Regions from separate parts of the Homo sapiens genome. Here all the other regions are linked to region 4. The links come from fine-mapping of genetic effects on gene expression. A gene starts in region 4. Each other region holds a variant in brackets. All regions are shown on one strand. Distances are between the middles of the regions.

Region 1 (5,152 bases), 67 kb after region 4:
CCCCATAAGCACCCAGTGGCCCTGCCTGTGTCTCAGTGCATGAATACGCATGACCCGCCAGCTACCAGACTGAGGCACCGGGCCCTGCCTGGGGATGAGAAGTTGAGTCAGGCATCTCCCCTTCCCACCACCCCAATCCACTGTGGAAAGGCAACCCCCAAGAGTACTGCAACCTCTGTCCTGAGAGACTCTAGGTACCCAAGGTGGGCAGGAGGCTTGCCCTCACTGAGCTACCCATTGAACACATGGTGGTGCTGCCAGCCTAAGACCCCTGAGATGCTGCCAGGTGCACACGCCTGACCTTGACCCTCCCTGTGCCAAGGTCCCCGTCCCCTCTGGGTACAGGGAGGGTCAAGGTCAGACGTGTGCACCCGGCAGCATCTCAGGGGTCCCAGGCTGGCAGCAACACCATGCGTTCAATGGGTAGCTCAGGAAGGGTAAGCCTCCTGCCCACTTTAGGTACCTAGAATTGTAACTTTGAACAAATTCAAAGGTAAACCATTAAAAGTTTCAGGATGGTGATCACAGAACATGAAATCTCAAGTGCCCCTCTGCATCCTGTGTGTCACATGCCCGTGAAGTGGCCCCAAGTTTGGACCTCAGATGGAAGGAACCATTCTGATTGCCTTCATACCCTAAATATACAAATTTGACATATCATAACTTATATATGTTACAAATAAGAAAGGCTTTAGGTTTCCCTTCATTTCAACTTTATTTCAGTTATGAGTTAATCAGTAGAGTTGAAACTGAAGTGAAACTATGTTTTCCATTTGTTTAAAAAAGCCTTTGTACAGGGAAAGAAATATACCAAAGGGCTTTGTGTCTTGTTGCAGGTTCTGTAACTAGAGCTCAACCACACTCAGCTCTCTGGTGGCATTTAGAGACACCCAGCTGGGGAGAGGCTTGCCCTTTCATTGCACAGGGTCAAGGGTAAAAGGTCATTTTTATATCATTTTCCGGGCATCGCACCGATGTTTTGGTTTTTGCTTGTTTTTACAACAAATGTCGATACATGAATTGCTTTCGTAATTAGGAAAAACCAATAAACATTATTTTGTGAAGTAACAAAATAAATGTACTTTACCTGTAGGGAGAGAACACTCCTCCTTGCACTTTTCTGATAAAACCAGTGTCATTTCTCTGTTAACTTTTCTTAGTACCTCTTGGATCATTTGAATTTCACAATTTTCCAGAAGTTTTTGAAGCTAGAGTAAGCATAGGTTGAGGGTCACTCACTACATTCAGATTATATTTTGGGTCCCGTGTCACATTCCTGCAGAAGGGCTTTGGGCTAGGGCCTGTCCCTCAGCTACTCTCCCGGGAAAGAAGGAACACTTCCCTTCTAGGTCTCCCAAGTGCTTCTGGGGGCACAGATGTACCTCCCTGGAGACTAGCACCTTTTCTTCCTGGCTCACATCCTCATTGATAAAATACAATCCTTTTTTTTTTTTTAACCAAGTTTTGCTAAATTGCAAAGTGTCTAATCCCTGGGGTGACCTCATGTCTTCCGGGGTCTCTAAATGTGGCTAGGATTCTGTGAGTTCTCATTACAAAAGAAGCTCTCAGCCGGGCACAATGGCTCACACCTGTAATCTCAACACTTTGGGAGGCCGAGGCAGGTGGATCACAAGGTCAGGAGTTCGAGACCAGCCTAGCCAAGATGATGAAACCCCATCTCTACTAAAAATAAAAAAATTAGCCGGGCGCCTGTAATCCCAGCTACTCGGGAGACTGAGGCAGGAGAATTGCTTGAACCTGAGAGGCGGAGGTTGCAGTGAGCTGAGATCGCGCCACTGCACTCTAGCCTGGGCGACAGAGCAAGACTCAAAAAAAAAAAAGAAGCCCTCAGGTATAAAACTTGATTTAGATACCAAGGAAGATTTCACAAGATTTAAAACTCCATGTAGGACCAACAGTAAAGTCTTCCAAAAACTGTGAGCCCTCACTCAATCCATTATGCTTGCAGAGTGTAGGTTTCTCCCTGTTGAAGGCCCCCAGGTACTGGAAAGGAATAGGGCTCAGAAGGGTAAGCAGTGAGCTTGGCACTGGGGCCTGACAGGGGCTGACTTCTCCTTGTTGCTCAGTGGATGAGCATCTGTGCATTGACAACCGAACAGCCGAGGCTTTGCTTGCCTGGTACAATAAGCCCAGCCACAGAG[C/T]GCGTGAGTCCCAGGATCAAGCTGAACAAAGACTCGGGAAAACAACTTCTCCACACAGATCATCTTACACATACCAAATGGGCATTTTCTTATTCTCAGAAAAACAATTACAGGGAGCTTTTACAAATATTTCATTTCCATGTGAATACTTGCATGCTAAATTTTATGCTTAAGATAGTGGTTATGTTTTCTATGATCATTCTTATGAAGGTACACATCAATTTGAGGAAAATCAAAATGATAAAAATCCAGACTTATAGAACAGGGACATTAAGGGTAGTAATTTGCTTCATCGAAGCACCACATGGCTTTAAATACTTAGTCCTGCCCTCCCTCCAGCCCATTCAATGATTTACAACCCTGCAATTTACACTCAGCTTCTTGGAAAAAATACCATTTGGGTATGCCTGTAGTTTTACATGCTAATGCCATAAAGGACATTTTCAAAGGCAAATTTAAAATATATCCTGCATACTTGGTGAGTTTTTATTTCAACTTCTGAGGCTCCACTGGGGGGAAGAACAGACTGATTATTTACTATAAATCCTTCAAATTCATCTTCTTTCCCCATCTGCCTGGCTATAGCTTTCATGCTGGGGTAGAGAACGTCAGTTCTATTAAAGAAGAAAGACAGAAATTAGCAAACATATTTTTTCTCATTTCAATTCTCTGATAATTATTTTCATTCATTTTCTCTTTCCTATCATCAGTATCCTAACCCATTCACAGATACATCAACATTTAATTCACCACAGTTATCATTCCTTAGCCACATGAAATCGTGAGGCTTTTTCCCATTGGGTGCATATAATTTCAGTCCTCATTCTTCAAAATATTGACAAGTCTTCACCTTCCCTAGTTATCAGGGACACTGACTATAATAATTTCACAAGATAAACAATCTGGCTGTACCAAAGTGAACTTTTTGTTGTTGTTATTGTTGTTGTTGTTGTTTGTTTTTGTTTTTTGAGAGGGAGTTTCACACTTGTTGCCCAGGCTGGAGTGCAATGGTGCGATCTCAGCTCACTGCAACCTCCGCCTCCTGGGTTCAAGCCATTCTTCTGCCTCAGCCTCCCGAGTAGCTGGGATTACAGGTACCCACCATCACACCTGGTCAATTTTTTGTATTTTTAGTAGAGACAGGGTTTCACCGTGTTGGCCAGGCTGGTCTCAAACTTCTGACCTCAGGTAATCCACCCGCCTCAGCCTCCCCAAGTGCTGGGATTACAGCTGTGAGCCACCACGCCTGGCCTAAAGCAAACGTTCTTAAGCTTGGTAAGGCCCAGGGTGTATGGGGGTGCTTAGCAAATGTTCGTTTGTTAACAGACACGTGGCAGAAGCAACACGCCTTCCCAGCCAGCTACGTCATTCGAGCCAGGGCCTGCAGCTGCTAGAATGCCTCCCATTCCTCAGACTTGTGCCGCATGTGCCATCTGTATATCTCTGGCTGCAATGCCACAAGCTCTGAGAGACTCAGTCCGTGGGTCTAACGGGTCATATTAGGATTCATGGACCAAATCTCGCCCTCAGACTAAGGGCAGGAATCTGCCATCCCCCAGGTTCTAGTCATGGCCATGAATTTCAGCATCAGCAACACTCACTCATAGAGCTCTGAAAACCGTTTGTGGAGAGAGACAGAGTTGATATCCTGGCCTTGCAGCTTGAGTCGGCCCCAGTGCTCCTTTAGCACTTCCAGCTGCTTCCACAGTATCAGAAATGATCTCAGCAAAGCAAAGGACATCACCGCATCGCACAGGCCCTCCAGCAGCTCAGAGGTCTTTGGGCTGCTTCGGAACTGACTTCTGAATCCTGGCACTTTGGACCAATCTGGCTGAAAGCATTATGGAAATCCTTCTTTATTGATCATGGACCAACACAGGCTAACCTTTCACATGCAGCCTGTGCAAAACAAAGTCTTTGGAGAATTAACTTTTTCCCCAGGAGGAATGGTTTACAGGCCCACAGCACATATAGAGTTGAGAGAGGTTGACCATCCTTCATGAACAGTTTATGGAAAGGATAGGAATGTCTCAACTGCAGCTTTTTGCTTGGGTCTGGAACCATTCATTTTGAAAACTCGCTTACTTGCATACTAACGTTTTATCTGCCTTTGAAAAACTGAGCCTTTTGTGTTTTCCCTCTGCATTCTGGAAAGTGCTCTTCAATATACCTGAGATTAAAGTTCCCATCACGGTGGGGCCAAGAAGTAACTTTCCATTCAGGATTTTACCCATCTTATGGGTAAAGAAATAGAAAGTTAATTTATCCTACCTCCTGTTTCTTCTCCTCTTTTAGAAGTTAGGCAGGAAACATTTCTCTTAATTAGAATTTATCATTCAATAAGAAAGATTACTTTAAAATTATGATTTCTTCATTTATTCATTGGTGCTTTCCTTAAGTAAATAATTGTGGAGGGGCTGCTATGAGCCCTGGAGGACATGGAGGAAACAAGGTATTCAGGTCCTTGTTTGTCCTGCTGTCCTGCAGCCAGCGGTCTGAGGGCCAGGGTCACCCAGAGTGAGGAACAAAATGAGGATCACGTCCAGGCCCACTGCCTGTACATAGTGTCTCAGTCACAGAAAAAGGAGCTCTTCTTGGCAGACCAGGTTGGCAAATCCCATGACGTTATGATAAAAAGAGGCTTAGAGAGCATTTAGGTGACAGTACCCGAGACACTCACGTTTCCTGGCTAGAAACAGGGAGAACAACCTGGTATAATTGGATCCTAGAGCAGTGGTATTAACATATCTAAGGAAAAGCCTGCCTGCCAGGAAGAGTATTGGTCAAATTGTCCAAGGAAGAATTGATAAGCAAGAACCAGGGGAGAGCGAGTTCCTGTAGACTGCTGGTAACTCCTCAGTCTTGTAGCCTGCCTCCCCAACAATCAGCTAGTGCATGGATTTCCAGATTTTATTTTATCCTCAGAGCTCTTTCATCAAATGAATTCTTACACACTGGCCCAAATATTCAACAGACCAAGGCCAAGCATG
Region 2 (5,152 bases), 260 kb before region 4:
AACTTTAAAGTAGTTTTTTCCAATTCTGTGAAGAAAGTCATTGGTAGCTTGATGGGGATGGCATTGAATCTATAAATTACCTTGGGCAGTATGGCCATTTTCACGATATTGATTGTTCCTACCCATGAGCATGGAATGTTCTTCCATTTGTTTGTGTCCTCTTTTATTTCATTGAGCAGTGGTTTGTAGTTCTCCTTGAAGAGGTCCTTCACATCCCTTGTAAGTTGGATTCCTAGGTATTTTATTCTCTTCGAAGCAATTGTGAATGGGAGTTCACTCATGATTTGGCTCTCTGTTATTGGTGTATAAGAATGCTTGTGATTTTTATACATTGATTTTGTATCCTGAGACTTTGCTGAAGTTGCTTATCAGCTTGAGGAGATTTTGGGCTGAGACGATGGGGTTTTCTAGATATGCAATCATGTCATCTGCAAACAGGGACAATTTGACTTCCTCTTTTCCTAATTGAATACCCTTTATTTCCTTCTCCTGCCTGATTGCCCTGGCCAGAACTTCCAACACTATGTTGAATAGGAGTGGTGAGAGAGGGCATCCCTGTCTTGTGCCAGTTTTCAAAGGGAATGCTTCCAGTTTGTGTCCATTCAGTATGATATTCGCTGTGGGTTTGTCATAGATAACTCTTATTATTTTGAGATATGTCCCATCAATAACTAATTTATTGAGAGTTTTTAGCATGAACGGTTGTTGAATTTTGTCAAAGGCCTTTTCTGCATCTGTTGAGATAATCATGTGGTTTTTGTCTTTGGTTCTGTTTATATGTTGGATTACATTTATTGATTTGCATATATTGTACCAGCCTTGCATCCCAGGGATGAAGCCCACTTGATCATGGTGGATAAACTTTTTGATGTGCTGCTGGATTCGGTTTGCCAGTATTTTATTGAGGATTTTTGCATCGATGTTCATCAAGGATATTGGTCTAAAATTCTCTTTTTTGGTTGTGTCTCTGCCAGTCTTTGGTATCAGGATGATGCTGACCTCATAAAATGAATTAGGGAGGATTCCCTCTTTTTCTATTGATTGGAATAGTTTCAGAAGGAATGGTACCAGCTCCTCTTTGTACCTTTGGTAGAATTTGGCTGTGAATCCATCTGGTCCTGGACTCTTTTTGTTTGGTAAGCTATTGATTATTGCGTCAATTTCAGAGCCTGTTATTGGTCTATTCAGAGATTCAACTTCTTCCTGGTTTAGTCTTGGGAGGGTGTATGTGTCGAGGAATTTATCTATTTCTTCTAGATTTTCTAGTTTATTTGTGTAGAGGTATTTATAGTATTCTCTTATGATAGTTTCTATTTCTGTGGGATTGGTGGTGATATCCCCTTTATCATTTTTTATTGTGTCTATTTGATTCTTCTCTCTTTTCTTCTTTATTAGTCTTGCTAGCGTTCTATCAATTTTGTTGATCTTTTCAAAAAACTAGCTCCTGGATTCATTGATTTTTTGAAGGATTTTTTTGTGTCTCTATTTCCTTCAGTTCTGCTCTGATCTTAGTTATGTCTTACCTTCTGCTAGCTTTTCAATGTGTTTGCTCTTGCTTTTCTAGTTCTTTTAATTGTGATGTTAGGGTGTCAATTTTAGATCTTGCCTGCTTTCTCTTGTGGGCATTTAGTGCTATAAATTTCCCTCTACTCACTGCTTTGAATGTGTCCCAGAGATTCTGGTATGTTGTGTCTTTGTTCTCGTTGGTTTCAAAGAACATCTTTATTTCTGCCTTCATTTCATTATGTACCCAGTAGTCATTCAGGAGCAGGTTGTTCAGTTTCCATGTAGTTGAGCGGTTTTGAGTGAGTTTCTTAATCCTGAGTTCTAGTTTGATTGCACTGTGGTCTGAGAGACAGTTTGTTATAATTTCTGTTCTTTTACATTTGCTGAGGAGTTCTTTACTTCCAACTATGTGGTCAGTTTTGGAGTAGGTGTGGTGTGGTG[C/TGGTGC]TGAGAAGAATGTATATTCTGTTGATTTGGGGTGGAGAGTTCTGTAGATGTCTATTAGATCTGCTTGTTGCAGAGCTGAGTTCAATTCCTGGGTATCCTTGTTAACTTTCTGTCTCGTTGATCTGTCTAATGTTGACAGTGGGGTGTTAAAGTCTCCCATTATTATTGTGTGGGAGTCTAAGTTTCTTTGTAAGTCACTAAGGACTTGCTTTATGAATCTGGGTGCTCCTGTATTGGGTGCATATATATTTAGAATAGTTAGCTCTTATTGTTGAACTGATCCCTTTACCATTATGTAATGGCCTTCCTTGTCTCTTTTGATCTTTGTTGGTTTCAAGTCTGTTTTATCAGAGACTAGGATTGCAACCCCTGCCTTTTTTTGTTTTCCATTTTCTTGGTAGATCTTCCTCCATCCCTTTATTTTGAGCCTATGTGTGTCTCTGCACGTGAGATGGGTCTCCTGAATACAGCACACTGATGGGTCTTGACTCTTTATCCAATTTGCCAATCTGTGTCTTTTAATTGGAGCATTTAGCCCATTTACATTTAAAGTTAATATTGTTATTTGTGAATTTGATCCTGTCATTATGATGTTAGCTGGTTATTTTGCTCGTTAGCTGATGCAGTTTCTTCCTAGCCTTGATGCTCTTTACAACTTGGCATGTTTTTTCAGTGACTGTTACTGGTTGTTCCTTTCCATGCTTAGTGTTTCCTCAGGAGCTCTTGTAAGGCGGGCCTGGTGGTGACAAAATCTCTCAGCATTTGCTTGTCTGTAAAGGATTTTATTTCTCCTTCAGTTATGAAGCTTAGTTTGGCTGGATATGAAATTCTGGGTTGAAAATTATTTTCTTTAAGAATGTTGAATATTGGCCCCCACTCTCTTCTGGCTTGTGGAGTTTCTGCCAAGAGATCCACTGTTAGTCTGATGGGCTTCTCTTTGTGGGTAACCCAACCTTTCTCTCTGGCTGCCCTTAACATTTTTTCCTTCATTTTAACCTTGGTGAATCTGACAATTATGTGTCTTGGGGTTGCTCTTCTCAAGGAGTATCTTTGTAGCGTTCTCTGTATTTCCTGAATTTGAATGTTGGCCTGCCTTGCTAGGTTGGGGAAGTTTTCCTGGATAATATCCTGAAGAGTGTTTTCCAACTTAGGTCTGTTCTCCCTGTCACTTTCAGGTACACCAATCAAACTTAGGTTTGGTCTTTTCACATAGTCCCATATTTCTTGGAGGCTCTTTCATTTCTTTTTACTCTTTTTTTTCTAAACTTCTTGCTTCATTTCATTCATTTGATCTTCAATCACTGGTACCCTTTCTTCCACTTGATTGAATCAGCTACTGAAGCTTGTGCATGCATCACGTAGTTCTCATGCCATGGTTTTCAGCTCCATCATGTCATTTAAGGTCTTGTCTACCCTGTTTATTCTAGTTAGCCATTCGTCTAACCTTTTTTCAAGGTTTTTACCTTCCTTGCAATGGGTTCAAACATCCTCCTTTAGCTCAGAGAAGTTTGTTATTACCGACCTTCTGAAGCCTACTTCTGTCAACTTGTCAAAGTCATTCTCCGTCCAGCTTTCTTCCATTGCTGGTGAGGGGCTGCAATCCTTTGGAGGATTAGAGGCACTCTGGTTTTTAGAATTTTCAGCTGTTCTGCTCTGGTTTCTCCCCATCTTTGTGATTTTATCTACCTTTGGTCTTTGATGATGGTGACTTACAGATGGGGTTTTGGTGTCGATGTCCTTTTTGTTGATGTTGATGCTACTGTTTTCTGTTTGTTAGTTTTCCTTCTAACAGTTAGGACCCTCAGCTGCAGGTCTGTTGGAGTTTGCTGGAGGTCCACTCTATGGATACCCTGTTTGCCTGGGTATCACCAGCGAACGCTGTAGAACAGAACATCAAATATTGCAGAACAGCAAATGTTGCTGCCTGATCCTTCCTCTGGAAGCTTCATCTCAGAGGAGCTCTTGGCTGTATGAGGTGTCAGTGAGCCCCTACTGGGAGGTGTCTCCAAGTTAGGCTACTCAAGGGTCAGAGACCCACTTGAGGAGGCAGTCTCTCCATTCTCAGAGCTCAAACTCTGTGCTGGGAGAACCACTGCTGTCTTCAAAGCTGTCAGACAGGGACGTTTAAGTCTGCACAAGTTTCTGCTGCCTTTTGTTCAGCTATGCCCTGCCCCCAGAGGTGGAGTCTACAGAGGCAGGCAGGCCTCGTTGAGCTGTGGTGGGCTCCACCCAGTTTGAGCTTCTGGCTGCTTTGTTTACCTAGTCAAGCCTCAGCAATGGCGGATGCCCCTCGCCCAGCCTGGCTGCTGCCTCGCAGTTGGATCTTGGACTGCTGTGCTAGCAGTGAGCAAGGCTCTGTGGGCATGGGGTGCTCTGAGCCAGGCGCAGCATATAATCTCCTGGTGTGCCATTTGCTAAGACTGTTGGAAAAGCGCAGTATTAGGGCAGGAGTGTCCCGATTTTCCAGGTACCCTTGGAAACACTTTCCCTTGGCTAGGAAAGCGAAATCCCCCCACCCCTTGTGCTTCCCAGGTGAAGTGATGCCCTGCCCTGCTTCGGCTCGCCCTCCATGGGCTGCACCCACTGTCCAACCAGTCCCATTGAGATGAACCAAGTACCTCAGTTGGAAATGCAGAAATCACCCATCTTCTGCATCGATCACGCTGGGAGCTGTAGACCGGAACTGTTCCTATTTGGCCATCTTGGAACGATCAAAATACGTTGTATCTTCTAAATGATGCTAGTATCTATGTGAAGAAAGTCTGTGACTTAAAGTTTAATCAGATGCTTCCATGGTTTAGAAACCAAATAGCAAAGCTATGAACATATGCAGATAGATGCCCCAAAACATTTTGTATTGGAAAAAACATTAAGGCATCAAAGTAGAGAAAAAAGATTTTTTTAAACAGGAAAATAAAATTCATGGTGAGAAGATTAGTTTGAGCTTTTGCAAAAGATCTCTTGAGCATTGAAAATAACATACATTATAGCATGTATAAGGCAAACAATTTACTTTAAATATATCTGCACAGTATATTAAGATTCTGATCTTGTATTCAGTTTTTCTAGTGATCCTGTATTATAAAGTTTCTTTTCTATTATCTGCAGGAAGTAATGGCTGAACACAATCCCCAGTATCTCATTGAGCTAAATGGAAATAAACCAGCAGAGGAGCTCTTTATGGTGAGTGCAGTGTTAAGCAGGA
Region 3 (5,152 bases), 56 kb after region 4:
ACCACAAAACATTGTGCTGTCATTAATGGCTATAAAATGGCAACTCTCTGAGACAGAACATGGGACACAATAAGCTGTTTCTAAACTCAGCTGCCCCTTGATACATGCAGGGGACTGGGGATTGTTCCCAGGAACACCCTCAGATCCTGAATCCATGCATATTCAAATCCTGCAGTCAGCCCTGGGGAGCTCGTGGATACAAATATCTGCCCTCTGCACACGTGGTTTTCACATCCCGAATGCTGTATTTTCTATCCTCATCTGGTTGAAAAAAAATCTGTGTATCAGTGGACGTGCACAGTTCAAACCATGTTGTTCAAAGGTCAACTGTATGCAAAAACTAATGGGGGCTGGGCAACTGGGGATCCAAGACCCTCTGGAACATGGGAACTAGGAAGATCTCTAACCTGACTCCTAATGCAAAGATTTGGAAGAGCACCTATGAAATCCAGGGAATATTCCATTACCATAACTAAAAACCCCAAATCAAATATTAGTATCAATCCTACATCATCTTTATTTTTATTAAGGCCTTCTATGTATCTGCCAATTATTTTGGTCTAAAACAATGATCAGAAATAAATGAACAGCTATTATATTTATCTGCTTAAGTTCCTAGTGCTAGAGGGCAAAATTAACTTGAATATATAATAGTGATAAAAAAGGAGAGGAAATTCAAAAGAGAGAAGTTAGAGTTACAGATTAGAAATGTTGACAGACTGAACTTTAGCTCCAAGATTGAAGCAGCAATATGGCTGACACAGATGGGATGAGGCATATACAAAGTTCACTTGAGGCCAGGAGTTCAGACCAGTCTGGGCAACATAGTGAGACCCCATCTCCACAAAACATTTAAAATAGACAGGCATGATGGTGCATGCCTGTAGTCCTAGCTACTTGGGAGGCTGAGGTGGGAGAATCCCTTGAGCCCAGGAGGTCAAGGCTACAGTGAACCATGATTACATCGCTGCACTCCAGCCTGGGAAACAGGTTGAGATCCTTGCTCTAAAAAAAAAAATTAAAGGGGTTGCACGTGATCAGTAGCTGCAACACTAGAAAGATGGCAGAGCAAGAGCGAAGAAAAATCCCTTTGGTTCCAGAAAATCTCCTGAAAAAGAGGAAGGCTTATCAAGCTCTCAAAGCCATCCAGGCAAAGCAGGCACTTTTGGCAAAGAAGGAGCAGAGGAAAGGAAAAGGGCTCAGGTTTAAATGACTGGAATCATTCCTACATGGTTCCTGGCGGCAGAAACGTGACAAGGTGCATCTCAGATGACTAGAAGTGAAACTTCACACTTTGGAATTGCCAGATAAACATCCTTTGGCCTTTGTTGAACGCATTGAAAGGATTAATGGTGTGAGTTTACTGGTGCAGAGAACCATTGCAACACTTCACCTAAAGAAAATTTTTAGTGGTGTCTTGTAAAAGTAACCCCCCAGAACCTAAAAATGCTGCGTATAGTGGAACCTTATGTTACCTTTGGATTTCCAAATCCGAAGTCTGTCTGGCAACTCATTTTGAAACATGGAGAATCCGAGGTCAAGAATAAGACCATCCCTCTGACAGACAACACAGTGATTGAGGAGCACCTGGGGAAGTTTGGCATCATTTGCTTGGAAGACCTCATTCATGAAATTGCCTCCCCAGGGAAGCATTTCCAGGAGATGCCATGGTTCTTGCACCCTTTCCACCTCTCAGTGGCCTGTCATGCTACCAAAAATAGAGTGGGCTTCCTCAAGGAGATGGGCACACCTGGCTATCGGGGTGAACGCATCAATCAGCTTATCCGCCAGCTGAACTAGACCCAGGTGCCAAACTGCAGTAAATTTTTGTCAATGAAGTGGAAGCATGTGTTTTTGTTTTTTGGGGAATTTTTATCAAGTATGTTCAGAGAAGATTATTTCCTGCCTTATCTTCAAAAACTGGAAAGGAAGCGCCAAAGAAAAGACAGCAGCTGGCCAGGCGCGGTGGCTCACGCCTGTAATTCCAACACTTTGGGAGACTGAGGCAGGCAGATCACCTGAGGTCAAGAGTTCAAGATCAGCCTGAACAACATGGAAAAACCCTGTCTCTACTAAAAATACAAAAATTAGCCGGGCGTGATGGTGCACACCTGTAATCCCAGCTACTCGGGAGGCTGAGGCAGGAAAATCGCTTGAACCCGGGAGGCGGAGGTTGTGGTGAGTCAAGATCGCACCATTGCCCTCCAGCCTGGGCAACAAGAGCAAAACTCCGTCTCAAAAACAAAACAAAACAAAACAAAAAACAACCCAAAAAACAAAAGATAGTAGCTTATGTTCACGGCAAGCACCTCTCATCACAATCCAGTTCCAAGAAAAAATGTTAGTGTTTTCTACATTGGCTGATGCCCCGTCTGAAATCAGCACATTCCATGGAGGAAGGCGTCCGCTTTGCTGCATCGTCTATCCCAGGGTTTAATGTTGGTAAATGAGTAACTCTAGCATCTGTACAAGGCTCCCTAAGACTCCTGCAGCAGTCGACCAAGCCCAGGGACATAATTGAATCTAGAGATTCCTGGGGCCTTGCTTTGAAAAAGACTTGAAATACACATAGGAAGAAAGGCACAAAAATAAATGTTCA[C/T]TTGTCTCTGCAATAAAAAAGGTAAATAAATTTGAAAAAATATAAAAATTTAAAGAAAATAACCAGAGTTATTCAGAGGAACATTGGTTATGGCAGCAAAAGCTTGGAAGCACACAAGTGTCCACCCTTCAGGGCGTACTTAAACTATGGCATATCCTTCCAATGAAATAGTACGCAGCTGTGAAAAAAAGAAAAATTCTCCATATACTGTTATGAAAAGAAGCACAGATTGTTAAATGAAAAAGGCAAGGTGCAGAACAGTGGCCATAAAATGCCACATTTTATAAGAAAGATAACTAAAATGATAATAAAGGGGGAGGATATCCCCTCAAGCCTACTAGGATTACTACCCCAGAAACTCCCCTTTCTTCTCTATCATCATTTCTCCCCTCTTTCCTGGATCACTCACAATAGTATACATTATTTCTCTCGTCTCATAAAAACCTTTCTCTTGACCCCACTTCACCCATCAGCTATTGCCTCATTTCTTTGTACCCTGTTGTAGCAAAACTCCCAGATAGAGAAGTCTATACTTAAACTGCCTTTGACGTCTTACAAATTCTCTCTTAACCCCACTTACCTGGTTTTCACCTCCACCACTTCACTGAAACTGATTTTGTCACAAACACCAGTGATCTGCACGTGGCTAAAGCCAGTGGTTTTACTCAACTACCAGCAGCATTTCACACAATTTGTCGCTTCCTCCTGCTTGAGAAATCTCCTTCACTAGGCATTGGGACACTGCGGTGCCCTAGTTTTCCTAACTCAACGTTTGTTCTTTCTATTCCTTCTAGATGTCTTTTGCTATTTCTCCTCCCCCACCACCCCCAGCTGTTAACATTAGAGTGTCTCAGGGCTCAGCCGTGGTCCACCTCCTCACTTCTATATATATTCACTCCCTTGGCGTTCTCATCTCGTCTCACAGCTAAATACCATTCATATCCTGACAACTCGCAAATTTAGATCCAATACTCACTTGGCATGTCTTCTTGGATGTCTAAAAGGCATTTAAAACTTAATTTGTGCATAATCAAATTCCCAATCTTCCCTCCCTAACTTGCTTCACAGTTTTCCTCTCAGCTGATAGAAATTCTATCTTCCCAATTGAGAACGCTGGAGTCATAATTGGTTTTTCTTTCTCACATACCTAATAATACTGAACCCATTAGTGCCTACTTCACAATAAGCCCAGAGTTTGACCATTCACTATTTCCACTGCTCCCAAGTTTGAGCCACCATCACTCCTTTCTTCAGTTATTGCAGTAACCTCCACACCAGCTTCTTTCTACTTTCACCCTTTCTTCCTTCACAGCCTATTCTCCACACCTTAGCCAGAGAGATTCTGTCAAAATATAAGCCAGATCATGACACTCAAAATCTGAGACTTGGTCCCCACTGCATTTAGAGTAAACACAAAAGCCTCAAAAGGCCTTGCATGGTCTGCCCCCCTTCCCCCTCCCTCTCTGACTTCAACGCTTACTACTTTTTCTCCCTCACGGTCTCCACTCCAGCCACACTTAGGTCCTTGCTATTCTTTGAATATAATAGGCGTGCTCTGCATAGGGCCTTTGTATGGCTTGTTCCTTCTGTCTGGAATGCTCTTCCCTTAGATACCCTCATAGCTCAATTCCTCACCTTATTTCAAACTTTTGCTCAAAACATCACTCACTCAGTGAGGTCTACCCTAATCACCCAATTTAAAATTGCAGTGGACCCCTTCAAACCGCCGCAACACCACCCTTCCTTACTCCATTGCTTTCCTTTTTCTTATGTTATCGCTTGTTGTCTACCCCTTCCTAGATTATAAACTCAATGAAAGGAAGAATATATTCCTAAAATATTTCCTAAAATATAGTAGCCTAGGACATGGAATAGTTCCTGTAATGAAAGAATGTAAATATTTATTGAATAGTTATTGAATGAAAGAATGAATATATGCACAAAGCAGCACTGAAAGAACATGCAGAAAACTAATGAAAGTGGTTACGTACAGGTGGCAGACTAGGATGCAAGGGGGTTCATGGTGACAACAAGACTCTAAATGTATATTTTTCATCATTTTGAGTTTGGAACCATGTGCATATATTATCTGTTAAAAATAAGATACTTAAAAATAACATGACAGTGGTGGAACGATGTGAGAATGTCAACACTGCTTGACTTCCATCCACGTGGAAGAGCAAAAGCACATGTGCACGTTAATTACAATGGTAAGAACTGGCTGGATAGTGCCTACCTCCTCGTGGTGGTCCCAGGGGAATACTGAAGGGAAGCGATCTATGGAGTTGGACTTAGGAGCCACGCTCCACCTCACTCCGTTTTCTGTTAATGGGGGGTGCTGGTCATCAGCAGGGACACCTGCCAGCCTGCTCCTGCCCCAGCTGTTTCTAATTTCAGATGAGACTTCCTACCTGCACACTCAATTTACTGACAGGAGGCTCAGTGCTCCCAAGACGAAACACCTAGCACAGTCCACCCAGAAATGTGGGCACAACAGAGCCAGAGCCTCTGGTATTTGTACTTACGCTATTTACTGCCAAGTCCTGGTTTTGA
Region 4 (5,152 bases):
GATTTACTGTCATATTCTTACAGTGAATGGATTCCCTTTAACATAAGCTAGTACAAGGGGGTTTGTACTTCTTGCTATCAAGTAGTGGAGGCAAACCTCTGATTATTAAGGGGCCACTGGATGTTAGTTATAGCTAGAAGGCAGGGTCCTGTTTGGAGTGTTGATCTGTTTATTTGGGGAAAGGTACTGACACAAGGCTGAAGCATTGTTTAAAAATCTGCTGTTTAAAAAACTTAGAGGGAGCTTATACTGCTAGAAGATTCACAAGCGCAGAAGCACTCTGTCTTGCTGCTTTCAAGAAAATAAATGGTTAAGAAGGTCGCTCTAACAACCAATCGACAATCTAATTGCAAGCAATGTGTCTAAGAGGAAATAACCTGAGTGATGGCTGACCTTGCACACAGAAGAACGCTCTGAGGGTGCCTTTCAATTGTGATTTTACCCCCAGGAGACATTTAACAATATCGGGAGATATTTTTGGTTGTCACAACTGAGAGGTGGGGTGCTTCTGGTATCTAGTGTGTAGAGGCTACGAATACTGCCGAATATCCAACAATGCACAGGACAAGCAAGAATGAGTCAGCCTGAAATCTTGATAGCGCCAAGATTGAGAAACCCTGCTCTATGACAACAATAAACAGAAGCTTACTGTCAGGAACTGAAAAAAAAAAAGCTGTCTCTCTGAAATGGTGAAAATGACTTTGGAACTCCCTTGATCTACCTCTACAGTTGCCATGCAAAATAAAATAAACCAATGGTTTTCTAGTCTTAAAACAAGAGCGTGAAATGTCCCTTTATCAGGACTGAGGAATATCTGAGGACTAGAGTTAAACATCCAGGTGACAAATTGTTAAACAATGGTCTGCACAGAGGAGTGTGTTTATCCTAGGGTGGAAAGAAGATAACACACCAAGCTCTGAGAACAGAGCTTCTATTTACATTTTTTTTTTTTTTTTTTTTTTTGAGACGAGTCTGGCTCTGTTCCCCAAGCTGGAGTGCAGTGGTGTGATCTCGGCTCACTGCAACCTCCGCCTCCCGGATACAAGCGATCCTCCTGCCTCAGCCCTGCTAGTAGCTGGGATTACAGGCACGTGCCACCATGCCCGGCTAATTTTTGTATTTTTAGGAGAGACGGGGTTTACACCATGTTGGCCAAGCTGGTCTCAAACTCCGGACCTCAGGTGATCCACCCGCCTTGGCCTCCCAAAGTGCTGGCATTACAGGCGTGAGCCACCGCGTCCGGCCCCTATTTACATTCTTAACCTTAAAAAAAAATTAAAGTTGCCTTGCGCTTTCATTTGGTCTGGGTGCCAGATAGTCAAGTGTTAAATATAGAGAGAGGCCTCCTGAGAGAAGAGCAGACACTTCTCTGAAGGGCTTATGGTGGGAGCTCACTTCCCTGACAGCATTCTCATGCTTCTGGGCTGGATCAGTCAAAACTATCAGCTTTTTGTTTACATCCAAGCAACACTACTCCAACTAGCGTAGTCATTGGAACAAATGTTCATAGTCCTGAGGGTACAGAAGGACGACACTGAAAAGATCCCAAGGGGAAATAAAATCTTTCTATTTGAGCAAAAAGGTAAAAGCACTATGTAGTCATCTTTTTTGGCACATCAAAAAAGTCATCGTGGCACATCAAGACAGACCTCACGAAAGCAATTAATATTCCTATATTATTAGGATAACTTTGCATAATTAAAATTACATAAGTGTACAACAGCTGAAAACACAGCATTAAATACAACTTTTAAAGTCTAATTTTTACCATGTGATAACCGTATCAAATTTTGCGAATATTTTGTGAGACTTGGCAGTAGATGGCGCTCACCTTTACTAAAAGTCTGAGCAGCGCCTTAACACTAACAGGAACTTAAGAATCCAGCTCTGATGTCAGGCAATCCCGTGTCCAGGTCAGGTCACTTTTTTAAGTCTCAGTTTCCTCACTGGTAATGTGGGGGTGGGGGCCTCCCCAATGACCTCGCAACTCAGACCGCTTTTGATTCTCTGACTACAGTGGTGGAGTTGAGACAGGTCGGCTGCTGCAACCGCCGTCTGAAATAGCAATCCGGAAAAGTCAGGTTGGGAAAGTGACAGAGTAGACGCCCTGCGGCTCTGATCCGGGCGGCGCCTCAGCTGCCCACACTATGTGGGCGGCAACGCACAAACTCCTTAACCACGTGGTGCCTCCATTCCCCTAGGGAGTCCCATCACAGGATAACTTCTAGCAAAATCAATCTTCAAGAAAAAAAGAAGGGGTCCTGCCGAAGATATAAGGAAGCTCCCTGGGGATCCCGCAGCACAGCACAAACTTAGTTCTTGAGAGCCGCACAAAACCAACTTCCGCCCCAGTGGAGTTGCGTCCGGAAGGCGCGGCCCCGGAGGTCACGTGGGCCCGCGGAATTACAGCCTGGCGGGGCGCTCAGGTGGAAGCAGTAGGCCACATTATGTCGACTGTTCCATGCAAGTCAGGGTGGGGGCCGTCCCTATCGCAGGCATGAGACAAGTCCAGCTGCGTCGTGTCTGGTAATCTGAGGGCAAGAAGAACGATTTGCAGAAGCTCCCAGTTTTCTTGGCTGTGGCACAGTCGCTTTGAGGGCCAGGTTCCTTCGGCTTCCTCCCGACTCCCCTGCTTCCCCCCGTAGGATTCCCGTTGGTATCGTCCGAGCCCCACCTCCCTCCTCTTCGCCCCCGCACGCCGAAAACAGGGGCCTCTCACGTGACCCCTGCGCGCTCCCGCGGGGGAGCGTAGTCTCGGAGGCGGCGCCGCAGGGGATTGAGGGGTTGACTGAGCGTTGCGAGCCTTAGCTTTCTCCCGAACGCCAGCGCTGAGGACACGATGTCGCGGCTCTCCCGCTCACTGCTTTGGGCCGCCACCTGCCTGGGCGTGCTCTGCGTGCTGTCCGCGGACAAGAACACGACCCAGCACCCGAACGTGACGACTTTAGCGCCCATCTCCAACGTAACCTCGGCGCCGGTGACGTCCCTCCCGCTGGTCACCACTCCGGCACCAGGTGGGCGCGGGCCCTGTGGGCTTCCCGCCCTCCCCTGCCCAGCCGAGCCGCACTGCCTCCTCGCCGTGCGGGCGGGGCCCGGGTTCGGGCCACGGTCGGGCGGGCGGGCCGCGCTCGGGGTGCGGCGGCGACTCCGGCAACATGGCGGCCAGCCTGGAGTCCACTCGTGGCCGGGCCGGGTGGGGAGCGCGCTGGGGGGAAGCGGACGCGCGGTTCCCAGTGGCTGCGGGGCTGGGGCCCCCCTCGAAGTGTTGCAAGTCGAGGTGCCTTTTAAAAGTGCATCGTAATTCCTAGCCTCACTTGGGGTCGGAAATGGGGACGTGGCTTCCTTCCGCGGGGGCAGCGGTGGGGTTGAGGATGGGGCCGGGCGTCGCGCCTCTGAGGTTGGCGGTGGGGCCGAGCTGCCTCTCCCTGCCACTGGTTGTTCACCCTCCCGGCGCCTCTCTCCGGAGGTAGCCTTCTCCGGAAGTCCGGGAAAGAGAAACTTAAAGACGGTAATGCTCGTTCGTGTCTCAGACTTGAGTCTGAGAAGGTCGCTTGAGATTTAATTACATTGGTTTTGCAGATAGGAATAGAATGTAGCTGACGTTTGAGCACGTAGTTAGTGAAAACTTCACACTTCAAAGTATGCGAAAAGGAAGAAAAGTACCCATGTATGTACCGGGTGTTTTGCGTACGTATCCTAAGGCTAAACTGGAAGGTAGGTAGTGAAACCTAGGAGGTAGATGCAGAGACGGAGATGAGTAAACTCTCCTGACATTGTATGTTTATTCTTTTTTCAATTGTTTTTAAAATTTTCTTAACTATGTCCTGTGCTCAGATAGCGTATGTTTAGTAGGTCGTGGAACGGGGGTTTGTGCCCAGGTCTGTGGGTTTTCTAAAACCCGATCAGGAGCGTGTCTTTTGTTATGTGCAGTCGCATAGGGCTGGTTAAGGCATACATACATTTTAAAGCAGAAATTGCCATATACCGTGACAACACAAAAGAGAGAAGGAAGATAAGTTTGAGGTAATAAGCGGGAGAAACACTAGAGGTTTAAAACCTGCAGTCTCGTATGATTGGTTATTCTAGTTAACATTAGTTAAGGAGTAATGTTTACGTAGTTAACATTGGCTTCTTGACCGAAGAATGCCGAAGTGTAATGATTTTTATCACGGCATTCATATTCTACAAATTCTCCTCTAGTTTTAGTATTTTATAAAAGTTTAATAAAGTATATAGTAAACTTAATGTTTTGTTTTTAGTTTAAGGAAGATGTAATGGTAACATTTCAAAACGAGGGAAGTAAATTGCAGTATAATACTGGGAATTCTAACCGCACTATTTTAAGATGATAGAGCAGAATATGTTTGTCTCAGTCTTAATTTGACAGTTTCCTTTCAGAATTGTAGTGTGTGTGTAAGAGAAGGTTGGAAGTATCAAATTAATTTGTCTTTGTGTAATTGAAGTGCGTGCAAAGGAGGTATGTATTTTCTGGAAATCATAAGTGGATGTAGTGTGGTCTGAAAGGTAGCAAGTTTAGTTCATTGTAAAGAACATTTCAGACATTTCACTTTGCTACACCCGTCAAGCACAAAGGTTTTTAAACAGCATGTTTTATCTATACAAACTTCAGAAAATTTATTTTTACTTTATGAACCCTTCCCCACCCCACCGTACATGTCCCAGTCTTTAATAAGTACTAATGATGAAGTATTGAAAGCAGTGCCTCTGCAGAACTATTTTTTAGGCAGGAGCAAAGCAAACGAGAATGTTTGGAGGCATCTAGTTTCTAGGAAAATGAATGGAGCCCAATTCTTTTTTTTCTTTTATTTTGCTGCTTTTTCTCACTGGAAAATAGAGCCCAATTTTATAGTCCGTTCTTCTCCAGAAATTGAATTATGGTGATGAGTACTTGTTTCTGGATTGTTTGGCCTAGGATGAACTATTGACAAATACCTTGTTAACCTGAATTGTATGCACTTGAATATGGGCTTTTAGATGTTGTCTCCAGTTGTGGAGGATCCTGTCGAGAGTGGATCATTTATGAATCGAGAATCCCTGGGAAATTATCTTTGTTTGCAGCAGAATGGGCATCATCAGTGCTTGGGTTCAACCTGTTAAACTACTACTGTTACTACTAAAAATCTCAGGGTTT

Evidence for each region. PIP is the estimated chance that this variant, and not a neighbour inherited with it, causes the effect.
Region 1: its variant is the best candidate, but not a certain one, in a credible set for the expression of CD164 in spinal cord (GTEx, PIP 0.59).
Region 2: its variant is the best candidate, but not a certain one, in a credible set for the expression of CD164 in whole blood (INTERVAL, PIP 0.83).
Region 3: its variant is the best candidate, but not a certain one, in a credible set for the expression of CD164 in thyroid (GTEx, PIP 0.53).

Annotation. Positions count from the first base shown.
Region 1 is chr6:109,312,904-109,318,055 of GRCh38, reverse strand. It overlaps the pseudogene CCDC162P. Among named protein-coding and RNA genes, the nearest start is that of CD164, 67 kb to the left of the region's middle. The variant C/T (reference allele first, on the strand shown) is at 2,163.
Region 2 is chr6:109,644,592-109,649,743 of GRCh38, reverse strand. It overlaps AK9 (adenylate kinase 9), which reads left to right. Exons shown (of 41, transcript NM_001145128.3): 9 at 5,056-5,130. Among named protein-coding and RNA genes, the nearest start is that of AK9, 44 kb to the left of the region's middle. The variant C/TGGTGC (reference allele first, on the strand shown) is at 1,948.
Region 3 is chr6:109,323,823-109,328,974 of GRCh38, reverse strand. It overlaps the pseudogene CCDC162P and the pseudogene RPL7P28. Among named protein-coding and RNA genes, the nearest start is that of CD164, 56 kb to the left of the region's middle. RefSeq lists an enhancer at 1-390. The variant C/T (reference allele first, on the strand shown) is at 2,600.
Region 4 is chr6:109,380,066-109,385,217 of GRCh38, reverse strand. CD164 (CD164 molecule) reads left to right here and starts at 2,751. Exons shown (of 6, transcript NM_006016.6): 1 at 2,751-3,014. The coding sequence starts at 2,840. RefSeq lists enhancers at 2,134-2,363, 2,444-2,793, 2,349-2,858 and a silencer at 3,014-3,293.